Linked DNA regions of Homo sapiens. The protein of the gene in region 1 purifies or fractionates together with the protein of each later gene. This does not show direct contact. Each region holds a gene or a part of one and is shown on either strand. Other genes may lie near its edges.

Region 1 (5,265 bases):
ACTTAGGAGCACCTGATGTCTCCTCCCAGCTCCTGAGCCCACTTCCACCCCAACTCTGAGGCCCAGCCCACAATTTGCCTCTTCCCTACTGCCTAATAATTGTTACAATTGCCTCAGATGGGCGAGGGCCACTGTGGGTTTTGTGTCCACCGGTGCAACCCCTCCCTCCCTGCCCTTTCCAGGCCGCTCCTTTGAACCTGTAGGTACTCGGCCCCGAGTGGACTCCATGAGCTCTGTGGAGGAGGATGACTACGACACATTGACCGACATCGATTCCGACAAGAATGTCATTCGCACCAAGGTCTGACCCGTGGGCCTGGCCTGGTCAGGCGTTTCCTGAGAAAGGGACATTCTGCGTTCCCGCCCCAGCATGTTCCCACTGACGTGGCATTTAGGGAAGCAGAAGGAAGGGGCTCAGCTGGGGCAGGGCAGATGCCGGGGAAACTAACCTGACCTCCAACCCCTTCCGGCCTGATTGGCCAAACCCTCTTGGTCTAAGCGGCCGCAGCAGTGGGATGTCCTTGAACCCTGCCCCCCTGAATTCGGCCCTGTGTGAGGGAGGCCCCTCTTGTCCACCTCTAACCTGGGGGAGGGGGCTTCTCCCAAGTAGCAGTAAGTGGGGCTGATTCCAGCTTCTCCCCAGCAATACCTCTATGTGGCTGACCTGGCACGGAAGGACAAGCGTGTTCTGCGGAAAAAGTACCAGATCTACTTCTGGTGAGTGGGCTGAGTGTCTGGGGCTCTGCTGTTGGTGGGTGTGTGGCAGCCTTGGGTGCCACCCACCTCACTGCCGCCCTCCTGCTCCGCAGGAACATTGCCACCATTGCTGTCTTCTATGCCCTTCCTGTGGTGCAGCTGGTGATCACCTACCAGACGGTGAGAGGGCAGGGCAGGTTCACCTTTCCGACAGCCTAGGACACCGCCCCAAAGTGCAGAGCCTCCCAGCCTGGGGCCCTGGTGTTCCATCACAGGACCTGGGTTCAGATCCCAGCTCTGCCTTCCCAGCCGAGTGACCCAGGGCAAATCACATAACCCCCCCAACCCTGAGTGTCAGTTTCTTCATCTGCAAAATGGGAGCAGCCCGCACTAAAGATAGCCCCTCCCTGGTTTCTTGTGCGGATTATGAAACCAAAGTCCTGGGGCTTTGTAAGCATCAGTTTCCCTTCCCTTTTCTCTGTCCCGTGGGGCAAGAACTTCCATCACGGTCATGCCTCAGGGTTTTCAGCCACGCCTAATGAGAGGGGACAGCGACTGTGCTGCATGGCATCCATGTTCTCAGAAGGAACACGTGCCTGCGGTGCTGTGTATTCCCACCTGCTAGCTGTGGTGGCACTTGCTGTTTTTTGCCAAAGGGGCCCGGATGGCGGGGCGTGGGCTGAGTTGGGCGTGACGACAGACCCACTCCCTGTCCCTGCTCCTGCTACAGGTGGTGAATGTCACAGGGAATCAGGACATCTGCTACTACAACTTCCTCTGCGCCCACCCACTGGGCAATCTCAGGTGGGGGTCATGCTGGGAGGCCCCTTGTCCAGGCCAAGGGTGAAATGGGGCAGGGCCTGGGGCTTTGCAATGCCCACGTGGGCTAGGGAAGAGGCCTGGGTGTGAGTCCCAAGCAGTCTGCCTTGTGTTGCCCCTTCTAGCGCCTTCAACAACATCCTCAGCAACCTGGGGTACATCCTGCTGGGGCTGCTTTTCCTGCTCATCATCCTGCAACGGGAGATCAACCACAACCGGGCCCTGCTGCGCAATGACCTCTGTGCCCTGGTAAGGGAGCACCTGCCTGCCTGCCGCAGCCTCAGCTCCAGCACAGACCTCAAGCCTTGGCTCCAGGACACCCTTTTGGGCAGGCCTGGCCCTGCCTTCCCCAGCTCTCCCCTCCCCAGTTCTGTCTGGCCCACCCTATCCAGCCCAGCCTGCCCCACCCTGCCCTGCCCTCCCTTGCCAGCCTGCCCAGGCCAGCCCACCCCTGCACACCCACACTCGACACATACCCCACCCCTTTTCCTCTTCCACTCCTCTTAGGGTCCCTCTTTTGGGTCCCTTCTTCCCTTCCTGCCTCACTTCCTCCCTCCCTTCCCTTCTCTCTCTCCCCAACAGGAATGTGGGATCCCCAAACACTTTGGGCTTTTCTACGCCATGGGCACAGCCCTGATGATGGAGGGGCTGCTCAGTGCTTGCTATCATGTGTGCCCCAACTATACCAATTTCCAGTTTGGTGAGTGGGGCGTCCTTCTTTTCTGGCTCAACCTACAGCAGGGACCTGCCTGAGTCCTTCACTATCCCCAAGTCACCCACAGGGATCGCTAAGACACCCCTGTAGGAAACTCCAAGGCTGGCGTGCCTGGGTGTGCACACATCCTAGCCTATGGAACATGGGCACCTAGATGCTGCTTCATTCATCTGTCAAGCTATTCCTATGTAAAGGCATGTGCCGCAGTGAAGAAAACAGTATAATTAAGAAGGGGTCCCTGGCCGGGTGCAGTGGCTCACGCCTGTAATCCCAGCACTTTGGGAGGCCGAGGCAGATGGATCACGAGGTCAGGAGCTCCAGACCATCCTGGCTAACATGGTGAAACCCCGTCTCTACTAAAAATACAAAAAATTAGCCGGGCACAGTGGCAGGCGCCTGTAGTCCCAGCTGCTCGGGAGGCTGAGGCAGGAGAATGGCATGAATCCGGGAGGCAGAGTTTGCAATGAGCCAAGATCACGCCCTGCGCTCTAGCCTGGGCAACAGAGCGAGACTCCGTCTCAAAAAAAAAAAAAAGAAGGGGGCCCTGGCTGGGCACTGTGGCTCATGCCTGTAATCCTAGCACTTTGGGAGGCTGAGGCGGGGGGATCGCCCAAGGTGGGGAGTTTGAGATCAGCCGGGCCAACATGGTGAAACCCCATCTCTACTAAAAATGCAAAGATTAGCTGGGTGTGGTGGTGCATGCCTGTAATCTCAGCTACTCAGGGGGCTGAGGCAGGAGAATTGCTTGAGCCCAGGAAGCGGAGGTTGCAGTGAGCCGAGATCCCACCATTGCACGCCAGCCTGGGCGACAGAGTGAGACTCCGTCTCCAAAAAAATAAAAGGGAGTCCCTGATCTCAGGGTGCTCACAGACTAAGACACAGACCAAGTTGTCCCTGTTTTCAGGAGATGTCAGACTCTGGGTGACAGCCAGTGGGGTGGCAGTGTGGTGTGGCAGGTACAACTAAGGAACTGAAGTTCAAGTGCCACCCTGCCACCAGCTCACACCATGGCCGTGGTGGGGCACCAGGGCTCTCTCTTCCTCTGGGATTGTTGGGGCCAGGAGTTCTCTGCTGGGGCTTGGTGGCCATTTCTGCAGCTCCCTTCCGTGTCCCTCATCCTAGACACATCGTTCATGTACATGATCGCCGGACTCTGCATGCTGAAGCTCTACCAGAAGCGGCACCCGGACATCAACGCCAGCGCCTACAGTGCCTACGCCTGCCTGGCCATTGTCATCTTCTTCTCTGTGCTGGGCGTGGTGAGGGCCTGACCTGCTCTGCTCAGCCTGTATGATAGGAAAGGTGCACGTGCGTTCAGACACGTAGTGCACACCCTCCGCCACCTCCTGCATGAGAGATTCCTGCTCCTTCCCTGAGATGCCTTCCTGGGCCCCTCTCAGAGTCCCAGCCTGGCTGAGCAGCCAGCCCCAGGAAGGGTGGGCCATCCGAGCCACTTCCCTCTCCACCCTCACCGCTGCCCTTGGTGGCCTCCCGACAGGTCTTTGGCAAAGGGAACACGGCGTTCTGGATCGTCTTCTCCATCATTCACATCATCGCCACCCTGCTCCTCAGCACGCAGCTCTATTACATGGGCCGGTGGAAACTGGGTAAGGGCACGCCCGGGGCAGGGCCTGGGGGAGGGGTCTGGGGGGCCTTGGGAACCCGGACGCACGGGAGACGCTCAGGTTCTGTCTTGGGGGCCCTGGAGTCACTGGGTGAGGAATTAGATCAGGCCTGGGCTCCTCAGCTGGCACATCCCAGGGGTCCAGCAAAGGAGGGTGCCCCGTGCCTGTCAGCACCACTCCCTTCTCTTCGCAGACTCGGGGATCTTCCGCCGCATCCTCCACGTGCTCTACACAGACTGCATCCGGCAGTGCAGCGGGCCGCTCTACGTGGTACCTGCCTGGTTCCCCTGCTCCATTCTCCACATCTCCTTTCTTCCCTCTGATGGGGGAGTGGGGCTGGGCTGAGGACCCAGGGGAGAGTGGGGACCAGCTGGCTGGGCCTTCTTCCACCACCCTCCCTGCCCCTGCCCTCAGTCCCTGTGTCCCTGCTTCCCTCCAGGACCGCATGGTGCTGCTGGTCATGGGCAACGTCATCAACTGGTCGCTGTGAGTATGGTCAGCAGTAGTGGCCTGGTTGGGTGGACAGCTGGGGACTCGGTCAGCCACTGGCTGCCTTGGGGGCTAAGGACAACTTCCAAATGTTGGGCATAAGACATGGGGGCTAAGAGAGATCTTGGCCTCTCTTCTCTCTCTTGGCATCTGGGCTTCTAGAATCTTCTGTGGGCTTCTGAACACAGCCCAACATCATAATAAAACATGCCTAGGCAGGGCAGGAAGAGCACTTCCTTGCCCTTGGGCTTCCTGCTTCACCACCCTTCATCCCTCTTGCCAGGGCTGCCTATGGGCTTATCATGCGCCCCAATGATTTCGCTTCCTACTTGTTGGCCATTGGCATCTGCAACCTGCTCCTTTACTTCGCCTTCTACATCATCATGAAGGTGAGTGGGGCTGGCCAAGCCCCCTCTGTCAGCTGCTCTGCTATCTGGGGAGAGAGATGGGCCCGGCAGCATTGAGGGGCAGTGAGAAGTTTTCTGTCCCATCTTTGCTGGTTGCGGAGGGGAGAGGCTAAAGCCTCTTGCATGGGCCCCTGGGAGCCAACTGCAGCCCAAAGACCATTTACTGAGCCCCTTCCAAGGGCCCTTGAAACAGGTGGCATTTTAGGCTGCAGTTGTAAGTGCCCCTTTCCATGCAGAAGGGGCTGAGGGGAGGTAGGGTGTGGGCCTCTCAGGATCAGGTGCTTCCCCAGAAACCATCCTGCCTTCCACTCTGATTGGAGCCCCCTGCATAGGGAGCGCCTTGAGGCCAGTGCACTGTCCCGACACAGGGTTCTGGATACATGGAGGCTGGGTGGGGTGGACATCGGGGTGGGGGCAGGTTGAGCTCTGTGGTTGTGCGGAATGGTATGAATCCAAGGAGCAGTCCTGAAGGCCTGGGAGGCCATGAGGAAAGGGAATCTGGGAAAGGCTGGGT
Region 2 (5,265 bases), on another chromosome or scaffold:
ATAAGAGCTAGGTATGGAAAGTACTTAGAATACCACGGAAGGGCCAGATGGTAACACATTTGATTAATAAATACATATTGCTGAAAATCCAAGTTTGTTTTTCGACCTGTTGGATCTTTCTTCTCTTTCTTTGCCTCCTGATTTGGAAGTGCGAAATCTGTGCGAGGATATGTGGCTCTGAGAGGTATGTCAGGTGTCACAGCAGATGTCCCAAAGGAAATGTCGTTTGTTGTCCGCCCATCTTGGTCTTGGTTGGTGGCTGCTTCCATCTTTGGGATGTTGGTGGTGACCTCGGCATTTCCTGGTGGTGTATGTGCCTTTGAATTTACAGGAGATGGCAATACTGGCAAACAGACCACCTGATCTTTGGTAAGTTGCATGGTTCCTGCAAAGATGGCTACCATTAACATAACAACAGCTAGGTAATCCATAAACACATCCCACCATGGTTTCAGGATTCGGTAAGTTGGCTGAATGTCATTAAGTGATGCAACTTCCGCAAGGGTAAACATTCCTAGAAAACAAGAAGACAAAAGACATTATTCTAGAGATGCAAATGAAAAGAGTAAATGAGAAAAACCCTATGCCTGCTCCTAACTAAAGTTTTCTCATTCAGGTCCTATCTTTTTATCCAATATAAATGTAGTAGAAAATAAACTAAAAGGGGAATATACAGCTTTTCTCTCCTAGTGCAAGGGAAGAGGGAAAGAATGAGTAAGAATTGCATTCTAGGTAAGAAATTATGACAGACTGCACCAAGTCCATAGTGGTTACTTAGTGGACCTTGAAGGAGGGTATGACAGCAGGATGGCATTTGTTGTGGACTCATTAAAGGTTAAGACTGAAATTTGGAGGTCAAGGAGTGGGATGACTCTTATTTTGTATAAGCCAAAATTGAAAGGTCTGTGTATACCATTAAATACCGTTAAACTTTGGATAGTCTTATGTTCCAGACTTAGTTCTAACACTTACTAATGGTTGATTCCTTAAGCCTTGTGTATTTCCCATCTGTATAATAGGGATGAAAACTTCTAAGGGTTGTTGGAAAGGTTAAATTAAGTAATGATTGTAACGCTCTTAGCACATCCTCTGGCCACAAGTGTTTGTTAGCTGTTTACGTTAGCTCCAATCACTCTGGTGGAAGTGTCCATGAACAGTTGAAACTAAGGGTCTAGCGTTTAGGAGGAGTCTTACTATACACACTTGGGATTTATCAATATATATAGCTGAAACTCTGGCCTTTGATGCAGTCCTATGGAAAGCATGTGGATTGAGAAGACAGCTCAAGACTCAGGTGGCCATGAAATAATCAATGATGGTGATGCTGAATAAGTCAGCACCAGGAAGACATACGATCTCTACCAAAGCAGGTGACCCGAGCAGCCATGAATGAAGCCCCGGTGCCAGGAAACTTGAAAATGTGGTTATTATTCACTATCAGCTGACAGCTTTATAGCACGGAACTAGTTTATACAAATAATAAAGGACAAGGACAATCATCCTGGAAGTAACCAAGAAAAACAGTGTTTCTAGTGGCAAGTAATGGGAATGGGCTTCTCTAATTATGTGCATGAACTGAATGTTTCAACTTCTTGAAAAACCACATGACCATATTTTCATTTCTTGAGAGGTTCTTGGGTTTCCATATTTATATTGCTTTGTCTTTTTTAAAGAAAGAAATCATGTTATTTCTTTAAAAACTAGCAAAAGACCAAGCAATAAAAATCAAGGCAAGTACCCAAGAGTTTTGGGAATGCATGTATTTTTTTAAATTAAGGATGGAAGATGAATTTTTAATATTTTTATTTATTTATTTATTTTTGAGACAGAGCCTCACTCTGTCACCCAGGCTAGAGTGCAGTGGCGCGATCTCAGCTCACTGCAACCTCTGCCTCCTTGGTTCAAGCGATTCTCCTGCCTCAGCCTCCCGAGTAGCTGGGACTACAGGCATCCACCACCACACCCACCTAATTTTTGTATTTTTAGTAGAGACAGGGTTTCACCATATTGGCCAGGCTGGTCTCGAACTCCTGACCTTGTGATCTGCCCACCTTGGCCTCCCAAAGTGCTGGGATTACAGGTGTGAGCCACCACACCCAACCAGGAAGATGAATTATCTATTCATGGGTTGTCTGGAATGCTGTGTTGAGGAGGATTCTGAGGCTGATTCTGGTTTCAGTAGGAAACAGTGCTGTGACTGATTACTTGTGTCTTCCTTGGATGACACAATGAAGAAAGGTGGCATTAGTACTTTGATTCTGCTCTGTTTTAAATTAAGTTTCTGAAGGCAGGGACCAGGTCTTTTTTTTTTTTTTTTTTTTTCCGAAACCCTTCCACATACCTAGTACTGCACAGAGTAGGTTCATAATATTTTTTAATAAAATACAATGAATACTACAGCAATGATCACATCTGTAGTTAGTTTTGTAAGCAAAATTATCTCTTATGTAAGCAGGTAAACACAAGTCTAAGAACTCCAAACATAAAATTGTTAGAAATCACATTCCCAGACTTCAGGGCTTAAGTATGAAATGCCTGGTAACCAGTCTTTGTAAAAAAAAAAAAAAAAAAAAAAAATTACCAAGGAAGTGAAAAAAAGAAAAATAACTTTGTACCTTAGTAGGGGAAGTGGGAGATAACACGCCCACTTGAACTCCTTTTATTCTGAGCTCCTGTATCTTGTGTGGGTTTTGCTTTCATGAATGGCTTGGATAAGCAGGAAGAAAAGCTACTGGAATCACAGCAAGCTAACCTAAATGAGAAACAGCTCAACCTCATGTCATTTTGAGCTCTTCAGTTCCTATCTAGAATGCACAAAACACAGCATCAAGCACAGAATGACTCTTACTTCACATACAGAGACTAGAGAGTACACCTTGCACAGGTTTATTTCTGGCAAGGAACGTAACAGTCATACCTGGGGACCATGGCTTTAAAGGGCCATCTGCATGAGTAATAGGAACAATAGATTTTTTTGCATGTAATAGTTCTTTCAAATAGGATTTTTCTTTACTTTTTAAAAAGAGTCATGAACTGCATAATGGTGTTTTGGTCAACAATGGACTGCATATATGATGGTGGTCCCATAAGATACGAGATGGTGGCTCATGCCTATAATCCCAGCACTTTGGGAGGCCGAGGTGGGTGGATCATTTGAGGCGGAGTTTGAGACCAGCCTGGCGAATATGGTGAAACCCCATCTCTACTAAAAATACAAAAATTAGCCAGGCATAGTGGTTCACGCTTTAATCCCAGCTACTTGGGAGGCTGAGGCAGAAAAATTGCTTGAACCCAGGAGGAGGAGGTTGCAGTGAGCCAAGATCACACCACTGCACTCCAGCCTGGGTGACAGAGTGAGACTCCATTTTATAATGAAGTACATAGAAACCTGATACAGAGCACTAATCACTGGCATTACAGATCAAGTAGGGCAGCGGTCCTCAACCTTTTTGGCACCACAGACAAGTTTTGTAGAAGACAATTTTTCCAGAAATGGGGGTTGGGGGGAGAGATGGTTTTGGGATGAAACTGTTTCATCTTGGTTGGATCATCAGGCATTAGATTCTCACAAGGTGTGCACAACCTAGATCCCTCACATGAGCAGTTCATGATAGGATTCATGCTACTATGAGAATCTAATGCTGCTGCTGATCTGACACAAAACGGAGCTCAGGCAGTAATGCTCACTCTCCCGCCGCTCACCTACTGCCGTGAAGCCCAGTTCCTAACAGCTCTCGACAGGTACCAGTCTGCAGCCTGGGGCCCGGGGACTCCTGAAGTAGGGGAAAGGACTGATATTCAGTAATGATGTTGGGAATTTGGTTTTCCATATGAATACATACATACATGCATATACACACACACACCATCTAGCTTTGTGTAAGTACACTCTGATATTTACACAACAATGAAATTGCCTAACAATACATTTCTCAGAAGGTATCCCCATGAAGAGACATGTGACTGTAATTGTATCTGGTTCTAGGGAGGCCAGGATGTCTGGCTTGGCAGATTGAGAGATAAGTGAATTTTGAAAGTCAGTGTACTGAGGACATTGGTTATTTGTCTTTTACACCATGATTATTACAACTGGTCTTTCTGCTGCCAGTCTTTACCTCCTTTAATCCCTTTTCCATCTTGCCATGGGTCCCTTGGTAAAAACTCTTCAGGCTCTCTCTGTTCCAGGCCAGTAACTTCTGCCAGTTTCTCTAACAAGCCATTCTCTCCCTTGTGTTCAGCCTCTCCAACACTTTGTTTCCTCTGCCTTGATTACTTCCTCCCTACTCCTCTTCACTAGGCTATCAGGTTTCTGCAGCCTTTTCCAGAAAGCCTTCCCTGATCTCCTAGTATGGGTGAGGTGTTTCTTCCATGTGTTCCCACAATACTCTGTACCTCCGCCCATCACAGCCCTTATCACACTGTATTTACTTGTCTGATCTCCCATTGGATTACCAATTCAATGAAGATATGCACTATGCCCACTTCCTTCTTTGTCCTATGTATCCAATGCCTGACACATAGTAGGTACTTAATCAATGAAATGATTTTGAGATCTTGATCATCATCTTCAGCATCCTAAAAATTCCTTGAGAACATTTATTAACATCTACAGATGGTATTGGGCAGAGGAGCATTTTATTAACCTGAATTGCTACCACAAAGCAACCTGGATCTATGCAAGAATGAACACTCTAAGCCAGGTCCCAGCATAAAAATAAACAGTTAAAGGACCACACAGCAGAGACATTGTTGGATTCTTGCAACCAGTGTTATTTTGCAGCTGTTGAAGTGTCAATGGTAGTTTTCAAGCACCTTGTACTCAGGACAGGCTTTGATCCCAGGAAATAGAAGAGGCTGTCCACCTTCCCAGTGGGAAAAGAAAAGTTCAAAGGTAGTGGCAGTGGGCATAGCAACAGAGTACAGAGTACTGTAACTTCACACACAGTCACCAGCTCCGGCCCCAGACTCCCCGCAAGAATGGTAACACTGAATAACAGACAGCACATGACCACTCCAACCTCAGATGAGCTCCTCTCTTCCAGCACATTGTCTACTCTGCCACCCCCCACCAGAAGTTTTGTGCCCTTGCTGTTTTCTCCAGCCCATTTTTCTTTTTTCTTTCTATTGAACTTTTCCTTATTAAGTCCCAGCTCAAGCACTACCTTTTCCTTCAAATTGCTATCATGTTGTCTAATAATAATGTGTTTGTAGGCCGGGCATGGTGGCTCACGTCTATAATCCCAGCACTTTGGGAGGCCGAGGTGG

What was found. The genes of interacting proteins can lie anywhere in the genome.
Region 2: the proteins of SIDT2 (region 1) and LRRC8D purify together in Homo sapiens (affinity purification with mass spectrometry; one large-scale study listed by BioGRID and IntAct). This does not show direct contact.

Annotation. Positions count from the first base shown.
Region 1 is NC_000011.10:117,188,526-117,193,790, forward strand, and holds part of SIDT2 (SID1 transmembrane family member 2 precursor), read left to right. Parts: intron 1-182; coding exon 183-301; intron 302-643; coding exon 644-717; intron 718-809; coding exon 810-876; intron 877-1,426; coding exon 1,427-1,500; intron 1,501-1,640; coding exon 1,641-1,764; intron 1,765-2,097; coding exon 2,098-2,215; intron 2,216-3,352; coding exon 3,353-3,489; intron 3,490-3,728; coding exon 3,729-3,837; intron 3,838-4,048; coding exon 4,049-4,125; intron 4,126-4,294; coding exon 4,295-4,341; intron 4,342-4,627; coding exon 4,628-4,733; intron 4,734-5,265.
Region 2 is NC_000001.11:89,928,316-89,933,580, reverse strand, and holds part of LRRC8D (volume-regulated anion channel subunit LRRC8D), read right to left. Parts: intron 3,774-5,265; exon of another isoform or gene 3,703-3,773; intron 515-3,702; 5' UTR 513-514; coding exon 1-512. UniProt on the Homo sapiens protein: Non-essential component of the volume-regulated anion channel (VRAC, also named VSOAC channel), an anion channel required to maintain a constant cell volume in response to extracellular or intracellular osmotic changes.